2 separate regions of the Homo sapiens genome follow, and region 2 is linked to region 1. Evidence: fine-mapped expression QTL. Tissue or cell type: fibroblasts. Region 1 holds a variant in brackets; the other region holds the start of a gene. All regions are shown on one strand. Distances are from middle to middle.

Evidence for each region. PIP is the estimated chance that this variant, and not a neighbour inherited with it, causes the effect.
Region 2: TFR2 starts here. The variant in region 1 is the best candidate, but not a certain one, in a credible set for the expression of TFR2 in fibroblasts (GTEx, PIP 0.60).

What each region holds. Positions count from the first base shown.
Region 1 is chr7:99,661,605-99,669,706 of GRCh38, reverse strand. CYP3A5 (cytochrome P450 family 3 subfamily A member 5) reads left to right here. Exons shown (of 13, transcript NM_000777.5): 5 at 2,642-2,755; 6 at 3,018-3,106; 7 at 4,393-4,541; 8 at 5,612-5,739; 9 at 6,825-6,891. It also overlaps a transcript of ZSCAN25 not described here. Among named protein-coding and RNA genes, the nearest start is that of CYP3A5, 14 kb to the left of the region's middle. The variant C/T (reference allele first, on the strand shown) is at 4,758.
Region 2 is chr7:100,637,328-100,645,429 of GRCh38, reverse strand. TFR2 (transferrin receptor 2) reads left to right here and starts at 3,878. Exons shown (of 18, transcript NM_003227.4): 1 at 3,878-3,953; 2 at 4,202-4,454; 3 at 4,558-4,744. The coding sequence starts at 3,921. ACTL6B (actin like 6B) reads left to right here. Exons shown (of 14, transcript NM_016188.5): 14 at 2,104-2,333. The coding sequence ends at 2,184.

The DNA of each region.
Region 1 (8,102 bases):
CATCAATACCTCTAATAAAAATAGCAAGTTGTGCCGTATCTGTAGTGTCAGTGCCTTCATCCATCACCAAAGCATAAAATTTTAAATTAGCAGTTTTACTCTCCAAACGTCTTTCAATAGATTTCCCAATTTCTCCAATTCTCCTGGCTATAGTCTGGTGAGACAAACTGATTTTAGAAATATCAGTTTCTCAAGGCAAATAATATCTACCACATCTTCCAGACATTGCTTAATAAACTCACCATCAGTAAATGGTTTTGATTTTTTTGCTATTAAATTTGCTACCACATAACTAGGTTTTACCTTACGATTGAGTCCGAGTTGTAACTTTTTAAAAAATCTTTTTTGTTGAAAAGACAGACTTTTTTTCAGTTCTGCTATTTTGTCCTTACAACACATACACACCAAATTTGTCAGCACGTTTTTGCATATAATGCCTCTTCAAATTGTAGTCTTTGAAAACTGGCACAAATTCCGTGGAAATTAAGCAGAGTGCTTCGCTATTTGCCTCAACAAGAAAAAGTCATTTGTCCACTTTTCATTGAACAATCTTCCTTCATCCATAATTTTTGTTTTTTAGGGTTTTCTTTTTAAGACATTGTGGAAGCCATTCTGGAATTAAAAGCATTATAATAGATAAGCAACTATATTTACTTTTATTATGGAAATTAACAGATAGGAAAATAGAACAGAAAGCAAGGTTTAATAATCAAATAAGAATACTTACATGTCTTCTAAATAATATTAAACACCTATCATCTACAAAGGTAGGTTGAAATATTATTGATAATTGCTGGGTTTTACTTGCCAAATTGCCACAAACACACCTAATACCTGACAGTGTCAATTCAACTGTCCGTGATTAGAAGATAACACACTGGAAGTCGCACACCACCATAAAACTGAAGCCACACATGCGTACAAATGGCGACAGTGTCTGGTGTACAGCAGCGCTCTGCCTTGTCCAGAATACACACTTGAATTCTTTGTCACAATTCACTTCACGTGGCACTGCAATAGCGTCCTCTCGCTCTTTGTTAGTTAATTTTAATGGCTTTTAATTTCTTCTTGCTGAACTGTTTGCAATTATAATGCAAATTATGGATACTAGTCCATTATTTGTGGATGTGACATACTCTGATTACCCCTTTCCATTCCATTGTTGTCTACGAAGTTCACACTTGAGAATCACATAGTCAAATTACAAAATTACAAAAAAAATTGCAAAAAAACTCAAAATGTTTTAAGAAAGTTTCCACATTTGTATTGGGATACATTCAAAGCCATCCTGGACTGCATGAGGCCTGCAGGCCACAAGTTGGACAAGCTTGAATTAAACCAATAGAACAATTTGGGTATAATCTATATCTTTACTATGTTCAGCCTTTCATCCCGTGAATATAGTATGCCTCTCCATTTCTTTAGCTTTTATTACTTTCCTCAACATTTTATAGTTTTCAGCATAGAGGTCCTGTACATCTTTTGTTAGATTTACACCAGAAATATTTCATTTTTGTTGGAGTAACTGTAAATGATACTGTTTTTCTTGTATTTTCAGATATTGATTATTGTTACATAGAAATGTGAATAATTTTGTTTGTTGATCTTGTATCCTATAGCCTTGCAGAACTTACCTATTCGTTCTAGAAATTTTTTTGTATATTCCTTGACATTTTATACATTGACAATTATGTCACCTGAAAATAGAGACAATTCTATTATTTCCTTTCCAATCTGTATGCCTTTTATTTCTTTTTCTTGTCTAGTGTATTAAGACATCAGGTATGCTCTTTAGTAAGAATGTTGAGAGTGGGCATTTTTTAGTTCTTCTTGATCTTGGAAAAACCATTCAGTCCTTCATCATTAAATGTGATTTAACTGAATGATTTTTTTACAGATTGTCTTTATCAAATGAAGGAACTGTCTCTCTCTTCCTAGTTTATTGAGATTTTATCATGACAGCTGGAAGTACACATTTTAAAACAAAACATAGTTGTGGAAGATAAGAGAAAGTTCCAAGCATGCTGGCTTGATAGTCCAGCCCCAAGTTGGGAAAAGTAATTATCCCTTTCTTTTTCCTTCTATTTATGGAATAAAAAATTAAGAGAAAAGAATTTTCAAGGAAATTGCATTATTCCTTCAAAACAGGTTTCTAGTCTTTAAGTATTACCTACTTTTCAAAAAAAAATCACCACATCATGGCATCCCTTTTTCAAGTTGCCCATGCTGTAGGTGTATTAAAGACAGAGCTGGTCTGAGGCAACATACAGTCTGCCCATCTGTCACCAATCCTTTTCTACTCTGCACACTCCTGGGGAAGGGCTAGGTCTTGTTCCTGTCTATTCCACTGGAAGAACAGTTCCCTACCACGTGGAGCATTTGCAATTAAAAGGAGACTGAGATATAGAGGCAGGAGACCACACCAGATGGCTGGGTCTCCCCACTCCCACCCCCGCCCCACATACACTCAGAAGAGGCTAGGCATCTAGGATCTCCATTGAGCATCTTGAATATGGCTTGCCATAATATCATATACAGTCAATAAATATTTGTTAAATAAGGATGCCTCTTCAATATATTTTGTGCAACCATGAAGATCACCACAACTAATGTGAGAAAAAATGTTTCTGTTGAACTCTAGTCTTTAGGCCCAGTGGGATTTATGAAAAGTGCCATCTCTTTAGCTGAGGATGAAGAATGGAAGAGAATACGGTCATTGCTGTCTCCAACCTTCACCAGCGGAAAACTCAAGGAGGTATGAAAATAAGATGAGTCTTAATTAGAAATGTAAAGAATGAATCTGGGGACAGGTAGAAAGTAAGATCACAGTCCGTTTCCAAGGGGTAGTCCACTGAGTTCGAGCTTCCTAAAAATGGTCTTTTATCTTTATGTACAGAAAAGACATCACAAAATTCATTACAAAATGTCACTTACTGCTCCATGCTGGAGAAAGCCATATCCTTCTGGGACTTGAGTCTGCACATTTAACTACAGGTACTGATCTGTTTTGTGCTTAGATGTTCCCCATCATTGCCCAGTATGGAGATGTATTGGTGAGAAACTTGAGGCGGGAAGCAGAGAAAGGCAAGCCTGTCACCTTGAAAGAGTAAGTAGGAGCACAGCCATGGGGTTCTGAGCTGTCATGAGCCCTTCCAGCTGCCTGCCATGGAGTCGACAGTCGCACTGTTGGGTTACTCCAGTGACCAGACAAAAGCAGGGCAGCGCTGCAACTCCAAAGAGCCACCTAAGAGGGAGTGGCTCCCATGAGGCGGCAAGTCAGCAAGGGAAAAGGGCCTTCTCTCCTGTGCACAGGAGCCAGGATTTACTTATCTGTTAACTTGTCACCATAAATATTCTGGGAGATTAAATACATACTTTAGAAATTAAAAAAACATGATTGTATCAAAGTTTTGAGTGTAGTGGATATGGAACTGTGGGTAAGCAAGCATTTGGTACTTGTTGCCTTGCATTGGGTAAGATGGGAAAGTTACAATGGGGAACTTGGAACAATTTCAATCCCTTCATGGTTTTTCTGAGAATATCAGCAAACTATGAACTATTAAACCTTCCCACTACTTCCTTTTCCTCCAATCTCAAAAAAGAAAGGGTGCTAGAAATGCTATGTGTAGAGCAAGCCTATTATTTGCTGTCTACAATGGTATGTGCTTCAATTATGCAGGAACGACAGGTGTAATCTGAGCCTGTCCTGTTCAGACTTGGGACATGTGGTCACTCAGTTTTGGGTTCTCCAAATCAATGTTGGAGAGATCTATTTTTTTTAACCAGAACATTCTTGATTGTCACATCTTACAAAAATGACTCTGCTCTCAGCGCAACTTCAGGTCAGAGGAGCTGGGGATAGTGGGGTTTTCCAGAGCATTAGCAGGGAGTGTAGAGAATAAAGGATGATATTTCTAGGAACTCAGAACAGGGTGTTACTGTTTTGTAAAGTGTTGAAGAGGAATTGGCTCTGGGCATAGAGTCTGTAGTCAGACAACGCCACCTTTCTTGAATCCACTAGGAAGAGTTAATTATTCTACTCTTGTTCTGCTGAAGCACAGAGCTTACATATCTTATATCATCCACACTCAACACATGCTACTGTAGTTGTCTGATAATGGGTCTCTGTCTTCCTATGACTGGGCTCCTTGACCTCAGAGGTGAGTCTAACTCAGCTTGGTGTCTCCATCACCCCCAGCATAGGGCCAGCTCCATCACTGGCACCAGATAACCACCTTCTGAGGGAGTAGATGGAAGATGATTCAGCAGATAGTTCTGAAAGTCTGTGGCTCTTTATGTGTCTTGACTGGATATGTGGGTTTCTTGCTGCATGTATAGTGGAAGGACGGTAAGAGGTGCTGATTTTAATTTTCCATATCTTTCTCCACTCAGCATCTTTGGGGCCTACAGCATGGATGTGATTACTGGCACATCATTTGGAGTGAACATCGACTCTCTCAACAATCCACAAGACCCCTTTGTGGAGAGCACTAAGAAGTTCCTAAAATTTGGTTTCTTAGATCCATTATTTCTCTCAATAAGTATGTGGGCTATTATTTCTTTCTCTCTTTTTAAAAATAACTGCTTTCTTGACATATAATTCACATATCGTATAATTCATCCACTTAAAAGGTACAATTCCATTGTTTTTAAGATAATCAAAAATATGTATGACCATTACTATTGTAAACTAAAATGTTTTTGTCAATCTAGAGCCCTCACACACTTTAGCTGTCAACACCCCACCACAAACCCCA[C/T]TGCCCTAAGCATCCAATAATCAACTTTCTGCCTCTATAGATTTGCCTATTCTGGACACTTCATAGAAATAATATCATTGATTTTTCTCTGTTGTTTTTTATTCTCTATTTCATGAGTTTATTTTAGTCTGTTATTTTCTTTCTTTTGCTGGCTTTAGGTTTCATTTGCTCTTCTTCTTTTAGTGTTTTGTGGTGTAAATAATTATAATCAATTTGAGATATTTTCTTCTTTTAAATTTAGATATTACAGCTATAAATTTCCCTCTGAGCACTGGTTTGGCTACATCCTGTGTTTTGGTACATCATGCCTTCTTTTTGTTCATCTCAAAACAATTTCTTGTTGCCCTTTTGATTTCTGCTTTGACTCACTGGTCACTTAAAACTGTATTGTTTAACTTCCACAAATGTATGAGTTTCCCAAATTTCTTTCCCTTATTGATTTCTAGTTTTATTCCATGGAAGTTGATGTACATATGCTGTGTTAATTCTATCTTGACTATCATTTCCTGAACAGCATGATTAAGTTAAGCAGCAGATTATGGTCTACATTAATCCAAAAACTCTAGTCCAATAGATAAAGGCTAAGAGGTCAGGGAATTTAATTCTATTACTTTGGTCACTCCAAAGACTCAGAAGGTGCCATTGATCTCACTGCTGTAGTGGTGTTTCCTATGTATAGACCTGCCCTTGCTCAGTCGCCGGCCTGAAAGAAGGGCAAACATGATAAAAGGAATGGGTTCCAGTTGAGAATCATGATGTTCTTATTCTTATTACTGGTAGAGAAAATTATAATTGCTCCAGGTAAAGTTTGCATTTTCAATGATTTCCTTTTGTTTGTTTTGTTTTTCCCACAGTACTCTTTCCATTCCTTACCCCAGTTTTTGAAGCATTAAATGTCTCTCTGTTTCCAAAAGATACCATAAATTTTTTAAGTAAATCTGTAAACAGAATGAAGAAAAGTCGCCTCAACGACAAACAAAAGGTAAAATCTGATGGTGGTTAAATGACGATGTTTAGGTTTTGATAAATTTAGATTTTATACACATGATAGAGCATGTATCTGTATTTTTAAAAATAAAGACAGAGAACTTATGTTTAGAACAAGAGAAGCCATTTGGTAGAAATAAAGAAGGAGATTGGGGAAGGAGATGAGAATGAGTCAGAGAGATAGCATTTAAAACTTGAAATCAGGCACAACAATTAGTATGTCATGATATAAACAGTATTGAGATAAAATTTTACCACTTCTCTTCCCTTTAATAAATTGTCAAAGGATAAAGTTTCCTGTTTGAAAATATATTTTACTGGTATTGTGCTTTCCTCATATCACAGATTGGTAAAGAATCATTTTAAGTCCAAGACTCTTATTTTACATATTCTGCAATTAAAGGTCCTATGAGGCTACCTGCCGACTGCTGACATGTAGTGTGTGGTAAATGTGAGTGTTTCACAGCCTGGAGTGAACAGGGGTCTTCTCTGAGAATTGAGGTTGCAAGGCTGGCTAACTCAGCTTTGCCTTCACGAGCCCTAGAGGCCAGCCGAAGGATGTCTGCAGGTCAGGGAGACAGGACCAGGTAACCCAGCTGTCACTGAAGATTATATAGAGTTTGAGAATGTTGGAATATTTGAAAATGCTCCCCCAAAAAAGCTGCTGATGAGTTCTGGAAATGTCAGGAGATTAATCTATACGGACACTGCTGAAGAAAAAGGTAGAAGAATAAAAGATCCAGTACTTCTTCCTGGGTAAGCAGTTATGACCAGAGATGGAACCGGCAACTCTTTGGCCAGAAAGCTGTATCCAAAAGACAGAGAAGATGAGAAACAGGGAGGGCAAAGGCGAAAAAGCAATTGGACATGATAGCTAGATTTGTTTCAGGAAAACATCCTGCTTTCCAAGGATTTAGATGAATGTTTTTGTTCACTGGTGACTCAGGTAACACGTCTTCAAGAAGCCATAGGGAGGTTGAGGGAGGGAAGTCAAGAAGGGAGGTTGAGGACTGCACTTTTGATTTACTTCTGACTTCACGAGTCACTTTCTGCCAAAGAAATCTCTCCTTTTGCTTCTAGCACCGACTAGATTTCCTTCAGCTGATGATTGACTCCCAGAATTCGAAAGAAACTGAGTCCCACAAAGGTAACCAAGGAGTGCTTCTGAGGGCTACTGGCGGGGACACTAAGAGGGAGGGCCTTGTTCTGAAAATGTGCAGGAAGTATTCCAGGAAGATGAGAATTTTTGCCACATAGCAGAACAACACACATTTAGATGTTATAAATGGTAGCTGGAGGCACTTTCCAGAAGCCCACAGGTATAGCCATGTTCCAGGCTGAAAGGGCAACCCTAAGCAAACCTAGAATGCTTGGAGGACAGTCAGTGGTTTGTGGATCACCTACATGAGATCAAATGCCAGTTCTCAGCCTCCTCCAGATCCACCAAGTGAGAACCTCTACTTGGAAATTTATATCAAACATACCGATCAGGAAGCACACTATCCCAGTAAGGGTGATTTTAACTGGCAGTACTTGAAAGTGTGTTCGCAAGGTTAATCTACTGCAAAGTTTTATTTTTCCCTTTGAAATGCATAAGTAACTAATGGGGGACACCTCTGATACCATGTAAATCTACTTCAATCTTCAGTCTTGTATCTACTAGTTTTATGACCCATGGATGGTTTTAACCAAAACCATTATTACTAAGACAGTGGCAAAATGATAACCATGGTCAATTTCAAGCTACCAAGATTTGGCAACCATCTCACAAAATTTTTGAATATTTAACAATTGGTTCTAGAGAGCAGGACTCAGCAGACTCCAGTATACCACTTTAAACATGTCCATGTCTACATCTACTTCTGTCTGTCTATCTATCTGTCAATCATCTATCTGCCTATAATTTATCAATTAATCATCTATCTATCTCAACAAAACTTGCTGTGATAAAGAAAATAGTCTATCATTTCACTGTTTCATATAGAAATCACTAGACACATATGGCTATTGAGTACTGGACATGTGGCCAATGCCACTGAAGAACAATTTTTAAGAGTATTTATTTTTAATTGAATAAAATTTGAATTTAAATAGCCACATGTGGATAGTGGCTACCAGATTGGACAGCAGAGCTCCCAACTTTAAAATTACAGTTCAATTTCAACTCAGTATAATGGGGTTCAATGTAACTGAGTAAAATAATTGGATGGTTGAATTTACCCACAGCAGCATACAGAAATATTCACTGATAAATCAGAACTCTGTAGACCTTTCTCACACTCATTTTATATTGTGTTTGGTTGTGAGTTACATGATTGCTGCAGGCACCATATTTATTTCTGTGCTCCAGGTCTCTAA
Region 2 (8,102 bases), 980 kb before region 1:
TTTTGATTGTCCCGGAGTCATAGCATGGGTAGCAGTGGGGATGGGGTGGACAGCAAGGGGCAACTAGTAAAGGAGGCAGGCAGGTTGGTTCTGGGGCAGGAGGTGGTAAGTTCAGTCTGGACCTGCTGCTGGGTTCGAAGGAAGGTACTGAGCAGGGAGCTGGAGTTGCAACCCGCATCTGGAGGGTATCAGTCACACAGAGGGGACAGTGGGGCCATGACAGACAAGGAGGACATCCACGAGAAAGGAAGTCCCCCAGGGAGACAGAAACCAGGGTCAGAAAGACAGAGGCTGGCAGTCTGAACTTAGCTCAGGGCTGAAGCATGTCAGCCACACAGTTCTTGTTTTTTTCCTTTTTTTGTTTTTGTTTTTGTTTTCGAGACAGTCTCACTGTCGCCCAGGCTGGAGTGCAGTGGAGCAATCTTGGCTCACTGCAACCTCCATCTCCTGGGTTCAAGCGATTCTTCTGCCTCAGCCTCCCGAGTAGCTGGGATTACATGCGTGAGCCACCACGCCTGGCTAATTTTTGGATTGTTAATAGAGATGGGGTTTCACCGTGTTGGCTAAGCTTGTCTCAAACTCCTGACCTCAAGTGATCTGCCCATCTTGGCCTCCCAAAGTGCTGGGATTACAGGTGTGAGCCACCATGCCCGGCCTGAAATTAAGTATTAATAATATATCCTGGACAAGTGGAGTGGCTCACACCTGTAATCCCAGCACTTTGAGAGGCCAAGGCGGGAGGATCATTTGAGCCCAAAATTTCTAGACCAGCCTGGGCAACAAAGCGAGACCTCATCTCTACAAAAAATTTAAAAAGCAACTGGCAATGTGGCGCATACCTGTAGTCCCACCTACTTGGGAGGCCAAGGTTGGAGGATCACTGGAACCTGGAAGGTTGAGGCTGCAGTGAGCTGTGCCACTGCATTCCAACCTGGGTGACAGAGCAAGATCCTGTCTCAAAAAAAACCCAAAAAAATTGGGTGTGTATTTTCCACTTAGAGCACGTCTCAATTTGGACCAGGGCTGGTGAGCTACAGGAAGCTAGTGGCCACTGCATTGGACAGCACATGTGTGTAGGCTGAGAAAGATCAAAGAAGCCCAGCCGTGGTAGCTCACGCCTGTAATCCCAACATTATGGGAGGCTGAGGTGGAACGATTACTTGAGCCCAGGAGTTTGAGACCAGGCTGGGCAACATAGTGAGACACCATCTCTACAAAAAATAAAAATTAGGCTGGGCGCGGTGGCTCACGCTTGTAATCCCAGCACTTTGGGAGGCCGAGGCGGGCGGATCATCTGAGGTCAGGAGTTTGAGACCAGCTTGGCCAACATGGCGAAACCCTGTCTCTACTAAAAATACAAAAATTAGCCGGGCGTGTTGGCACGCGCCTGTAATCCCAGCTACCCAGCAGGCTGAAGCAGGAGAATCGCTGGAACCTGGGAGGCGGAGGCTGCAGTGAGCCAAGATCGCACCACTGCATTCCAGCCTGGGCGACAGAGCAAGACTCCATCTCAAAAAAATAAAATAAAAATAAAAATAATTAAAATTAAAATTTTAAAAAAATAGAGAGAAGGGACACTCTGAGATGCTCATTGCAGGAACCCTCAAGGGGCAAGTTGTAATGCCGAAGGCTGCAGATGGGGTGCCACAGTGTTGGAATGGTGAGGTGGAGGGAATATCTTCCTTGGGAAAGAGGGAGACTGGCGGTGTTCCAAAGCCCTGATGGAGTGAGAAGAGGACACCTGGTGGGGAAGGACTGTGTGTGTGTAGGGGGTGTTGAGTGCCAGGTGCAGGTTGCCTGGCCTGGGGCTGTGCGTGCCATCCCCCCAGCTCAGGAACAGGGCCTAGCTCAGGGCAGAGACTGCTGTTCAATAATACTTGTTGAATGAATGAATTATTGATTGAATGATATGAAGAGGATACTCTCCCTCTGAATATGAAAGGGGACAGACCGAGGAGGGGAGGATGAGGTGGGGAGGGGCTTCAGAGGGATGTGAACCCAAGGGGTGGTTGGGGCCTGTTGGAGGATTCCCAGGGGCTGCACCTGCCTGTCCACACCTCCCTCCAAGGCCACCCTGACCCTGATATTACCCCCTCCACCCAGGGCACTTTCCAGCAGATGTGGATCTCCAAGCAGGAATATGAGGAGGGCGGGAAGCAGTGCGTGGAGCGAAAGTGCCCCTGATGGCACTCCTCCCCACACACCTGCTCCCAAGCTCAGATGGAAGTCCCTTAACCCCCATGCCACATTGCCCCCCTCCTCCTTTCCCTCTTGTCCTCATTAATGGTGATGTTTCTGGGTTGAAAGAAGTAAAAATGTTTTAAGAAAAAAAAGTTTGGCCTCCGTGGGGTGGGGAGTGGGCACAGGGGTCTGGAGGGAGGTGAGGGGAGGGAGTCTCACTTCTACACCCATGCCGATCCCACAGTGGGTGCTGGGACACAGCCCCAGGGGCCATGGATTCCTCAGGTTTCCTAGGGGTTGTGACCCAGGGAGGGCCACATGACGAGGACCGGGGGTTGGGGGAGTTGCTGGGGGCTAACAGTTGTGGTGGGAGGTGGGAGGGGCTGCAGGGTGCAGTGGAGGGGCACGGCCTGGGGTGAGTGTGGCAGGAGGTGGGTGGAGCAGGAGGTGAAGCCTGGATGGGCGGAACAGGAGGTGGGGCCTGGTGGGCGGGGCCTCAGCGTAGGCCTTAGGTCTCAGGGGAGCAGCACGCCTGAGCACCCCAGGACCTGCGCTCAGGTGAGATGCGCTATGCCTTCCTTCCTGGGGCTCTTGGTGGTGACAGACATGGGGCGGGGACTAGGGCGCTGGTGCATCCCAGCAGCTCGGAACTTCTCTGGACCTGAGTAGGAGCTGATGTTTCCCAGGGGAAACCCGAAAGGGAAACTTGGTGGGACCCTGAGCCCTCCTCTTCAGAGCTACTTGTCTTGGGGCCCTCGGAAGGGTTTGGGGACCTGCGCCCCCTGCCTGTTTAGCAGTTTATGCCTGTGACATGTTTCTGGGGTGAGGCTAACTGGCCTTTCATCAGCCTCAGAACCCAAAGAGGTAGAAACCCATGTGATCCAAGTCCTTCGGTGACCAAACGGGCCGGTGCCCAGGGAGGACCATGACTTGTCCAGGGTCACCCAGCTCTGCCCACACCTTGGCGGGGACTCTGATCACTCCTCCCCACTGACCCACATATCCCTGACCCCAGGACCCCTATCTGGGAGCTCTCGCTGGTCTCATCTGACCATGTGCTCCCACCTGTGCCCCTCCTTCTCCAGCAGCCAGCAGGAGTCTGAGAACGACCTTTCAAAAGAGACACACATGCACACCACCAGACCAGACCCCCAAGTCACACCACTGTGGTGCCTCCAGCTTAGAATGCCACTGGGGCAAGTGTCAGGACAGGGAGGACAGCTGATATGTCACAGGACCGGGGCACTGGGGGACTCTGAAGGCCAGATGAGGAAGGGGCAGATGTCTTAGGGGTGAATCTTCCACCTGGGCATGGCGGGGCTTAGGAAGGGGTCCCCAGGATCCAGGGAGGGGTAAAAGCAGGAGAGGGGAGGGGGCACCCATGTCTCTGCCCTCCCCCACTATCGGCCCCCTTCCCCCACCCCTGATGGGAACTAGGAGGCCAAAGTCCGCCCCAAGGTCAAAAAATTGATTGTTTTGCAGGGAGGAGGCAGGCGTGGGGCTGTGGAGAGATTGGCAGGGGAGAGCACAGCCCCTTGTGCTCTGGCCTGGACCCGGGGGCCACGTCTGGAAGGCTGGACTGAGGCCAGGACTGTGCCCCCACCCTTGGGGGTGGTGAGGAGCAGCCTTGGTTCAGGCTGCCTGCCAGGACTGATAAGGGGCCCTCCTAGGGCTCCCACAAACGGTTTATCGGTTTATCGCTGGGGGACAGCCTGCAGGCTTCAGGAGGGGACACAAGCATGGAGCGGCTTTGGGGTCTATTCCAGAGAGCGGTAAGACTAGTGGGATTGGGAAGACCCCTTAGGCCTTCTCTCTAAGTCCCTCAGCCCCCTCCCAAGCCCCTGAGGCTGGCCCCTCCTGGACCGTGTCCTGACCTCGCTTCTTCCCACCCCTGCCCCTCCCCCACGCCCCCACCACCATGCTCATTTGACACCCCCAAGTCACTGACCTCATTATTGCCAGATGCCTCCCCACCCCCCAGGCCTCTTGCCCCAATCTCATGCCCACCTCGCCTGCACAGCAACAACTGTCCCCAAGATCCTCTCAGACCGTCTACCAGCGTGTGGAAGGCCCCCGGAAAGGGCACCTGGAGGAGGAAGAGGAAGACGGGGAGGAGGGGGCGGAGACATTGGCCCACTTCTGCCCCATGGAGCTGAGGGGCCCTGAGCCCCTGGGCTCTAGACCCAGGCAGCCAAACCTCATTCCCTGGGCGGCAGCAGGACGGAGGGCTGCCCCCTACCTGGTCCTGACGGCCCTGCTGATCTTCACTGGGGGTGAGAGCCGTCCCCCTCCCCAGAAGTGAAGGGCTTGGGCTGGGGGAGATTTCTGGGGTCCAGAGGTGGGCATAAAGAGAATCCCCATCTTGCCACCCGCCAGCCTTCCTACTGGGCTACGTCGCCTTCCGAGGGTCCTGCCAGGCGTGCGGAGACTCTGTGTTGGTGGTCAGTGAGGATGTCAACTATGAGCCTGACCTGGATTTCCACCAGGGCAGACTCTACTGGAGCGACCTCCAGGCCATGTTCCTGCAGTTCCTGGGGGAGGGGCGCCTGGAGGACACCATCAGGTAGGGATGGCCCTGCCCCATCCTGTTCTCGAGTGTCCCTCCCCTCATCCGCTCAGACTGGGCCTCCCTGCCTCCTGGCCCAGGCCTCTGGTGTCTGGGTCCCCCTCCTGAGTCCTCCCATCTGCCTTCCTGGCCCCCCTGTTCAGCGGTCCTGGGAAGGATGGCAGGCATTCGGAGCTGAGGTTCCAGGGGACTGAGGCTCTGAGGGTGGCATATTTGGGAGGTGAGGGAGCTGACTGTCTGAGATCAGAGGGGTGCAGCATCCAGTATCAGACTGGACAGACCCAGAAAAGCCTTGAATGCCTCACCCAGGCGCCTAGATTTGGAGCAGGGAGCGCTGAGGGGTTCTGAGAAGCCGCATTCTAGGGAATCAGAAAACCAAGCAAGCAAGCCTGGGCAATACGATGAAACCCCGTCTCTACCAAAGAAAACACAAAAATTAGCTGGGGATGATGGCGAGTGCCTGTAGTCCCAGTTACTTGGGAGCTTGACGGGGGAGGATTGCCTGAGCCGGGGAGGCGGAGGTTGCAGTGAGCCGAGATTATGCCACTGCACTCCAGCCTGGGAGACAGAGCGAGACCCTGTTTCAAAAACAAAATAACGGCAGGGTGCGGTGGCTCAGGCCTGTAATCCCAGCACTTTGGGAGGCGGAGGCGGGCAGATCACTAGGTCAGGATATCGAGACCATCTTGGCTAACACGGTGAAACCCCGTCTGTACTAAAAACACAAAATATTAGCCGGGCATGGTGGCGGGCGCCTCTAGTCCCAGCTATTCGGGAGGCTGAGGCAGGAGAATGGCTTGAACCCAGGAGGTGGAGCATGCATTGAGCCGAGATCACGCCACTGCACTTCAGCCTGGGCAACAGAGCGAGACTCCATCTCAAAAAAAAAAAAAAAGAAAAGAAAAAAAGAAAAACAAGTAAGCAAATGCATTTGTGGGTGCAGATCCAAAAGCTAGGTCCACCCATAGCCCTCTTTTGGGACGGGAGTAATTTTTCAGTGGATTCGCCTGGGTTTTCTAAGTAGGTAATCAGCTAAGCTACAGATAGTAGGAGATGGAGATTCTCTTTTCCAATGCTTATACCTTCTACGTTTTTTTTTTTTTCATTTCTCATTGCATTTGAGAGGACATGAATTTAAGGTAACCGTGGCAGTAGGTATCCTTGCCTATTTCCTGACTTTAATAGCAATGCTTTTATAATACTTTGCCATTGACAATGAACTTTGCTGTGCTCCAGACAGCTTTTTAAAATTGAATTAAGGAAGTTTCCTTTCACTCCTAGCTCACTGAGACTTTTATTGATTGATTGATTTTTTGAGACGGAGTCTCCCTCTTATCACCCAGGCTGGAGTGCAGTGGTGCAATCTTGGCTCACTGCAGCCTCCGCCTCCCAGGTTCACGCGATTCTCATGCCTCAGCCTCCTGAGTAGCTGGGATTACAGGTGTGTGCCATCACGCTTGATTAATTTTTGTATTTTTTAGTAGAGACAGGGTTTTGCCATGTTGCCCAGGTTGGTCTCCAACTCGTAAGCTCAAGCGATCTGCCAAAGCGCTTCGGCTTCCCAAAGTGCTGGGATTACAGGCATGAGCCACAGCACCCAGCCTCTTCTTTAATGTTTATATAGTAATTTGTGTTAATAGATTTCCTTATCTTCCTGAGCTCAACGCTAACCTTGATCAAGGTGTATGATTACTCTTTTGATATGTTGCTGGATTCACCTGCTGAAAGACCTTGAGTCTGTGGAATCAACAATGTTCAGGGCTTTATTTTTTTGAGATAGGGCCTCACTGTCACCCAGACAGTGCCGAGATGATAGCTCACTGCAGCCTCCAACTCCTGGACCCAAGTGATCCTCCCACCTTAGCCTTTCAAGTAGCTAGGACTACAGATGTGTGCCACTATGCCCGGCTATTTTTTTTTTTTTTACTTTTTTTGAGACAGAGTTTCACTGTTGCCCAGGCTGGAGTGCAGTGGTGCGATCTCGGCTCATGGCAACCTCCACCTCCCAGGTTCAAGCAATTCTCCTGCCTTAGCCTCCCGAGTAGCTGGGATCACAGGTGCCTGCCACCACACCCAACCAATTTTTTGTATTTTTAGTAGAGACGGGGTTTCACCATGTTGGGCAGACTGGTCTCAAACTCCTGACCTCAGATGATCCACCCACCACGGCCTCCCAAAGTGCAGGGATTACAGGCATGAGCCACCATGCCCAGCCTAATTTTTAATTTTTTTTAGTAGAAACGAGGTCTCCCTATGTTGCCCAGGATGGTCTCAAACTACTGGCCTCAAACAATCCTCCCACCTCAGCCTCCCAAAATGCTGGGATTATAGGAATGAGGTACCGCACCCAGCCTGCTCAGGGCTTTTAAATTAAATTACAGGTCAGGCATGGTGGCTCACACCTGTAATCCCAGCACTTTGGGAGGCCGAGGTGGGCAGATCATGAGGTCAGGAGATCGAGACTATCCTGGCTAACATGGTGAAACCCCGTTTCTACTAAAAACACAAAAAATTAGCTGGGCGTGGTGGCGGGCACCTATAGTCCCAGCTACTTGGGAGGCTGAGGCAGGAGAATGGCATGAACCCGGGAGGCGGAGCTTGCAGTGAACCGAGATCGCGCCACTGCACTCCAGCCTGGGCGACAGAGCAAGACTCTGTCTCAAAAAAACAAAACAAATACAAAATTAGCCGGGCGTAGTGGCGCATGCCTGTAATCCCAGCTACTCGGGAGGCTGAAGCAGGAGAATCGCTTAAACCCAGGAGGCGGAGGTTGCGGTGAGTCAACGTCGTGCCATTGCACTCCAGCCTGGGCAACAAGAGTGAAACTCCATCTCAAAAAAAAAAAAATTAAATTACATTAATTTTTTTTTGAGACAGGGCCTTGCTCTGTCACCTAGGCTAGAATGCAGTGGTGCAATCTGGGCTCACTGCAGCCTCGATTTCCCAAGCTCAGGTGATTCTCCCATCTCAGCCTCCTGAGTAGCTGGGTCTACAGGGAGGGGCCACCACGCCCAGCTAATTTTTCATTTTTCTTTTTTCAAAATTATTATTATTATTTAGGGACAGGATTTATTTATTTTTATATATTTGCAACCAATTCTCACTCTGTTGCCCAAGCTGGAGTACAGTGGCATGATCTTAGCTCACTGTAACCTCCGCCTCCCGGCTTCAGGTGATTTTTGTGCCTCAGCTTCCCAAGTAGCTGGGACTACAGGCGTGAGCCACCATGCCCAGCTAATTTATGATTTTTTTGTTTGTTTTTTGTTTTTTTCTTTTTTTTTGTGAGACAGAGTTTCACTCTTGTTGCCCAGGCTGGAGAGCAATGGCACGATCTTGGCTCACTGCAAACTCCGCC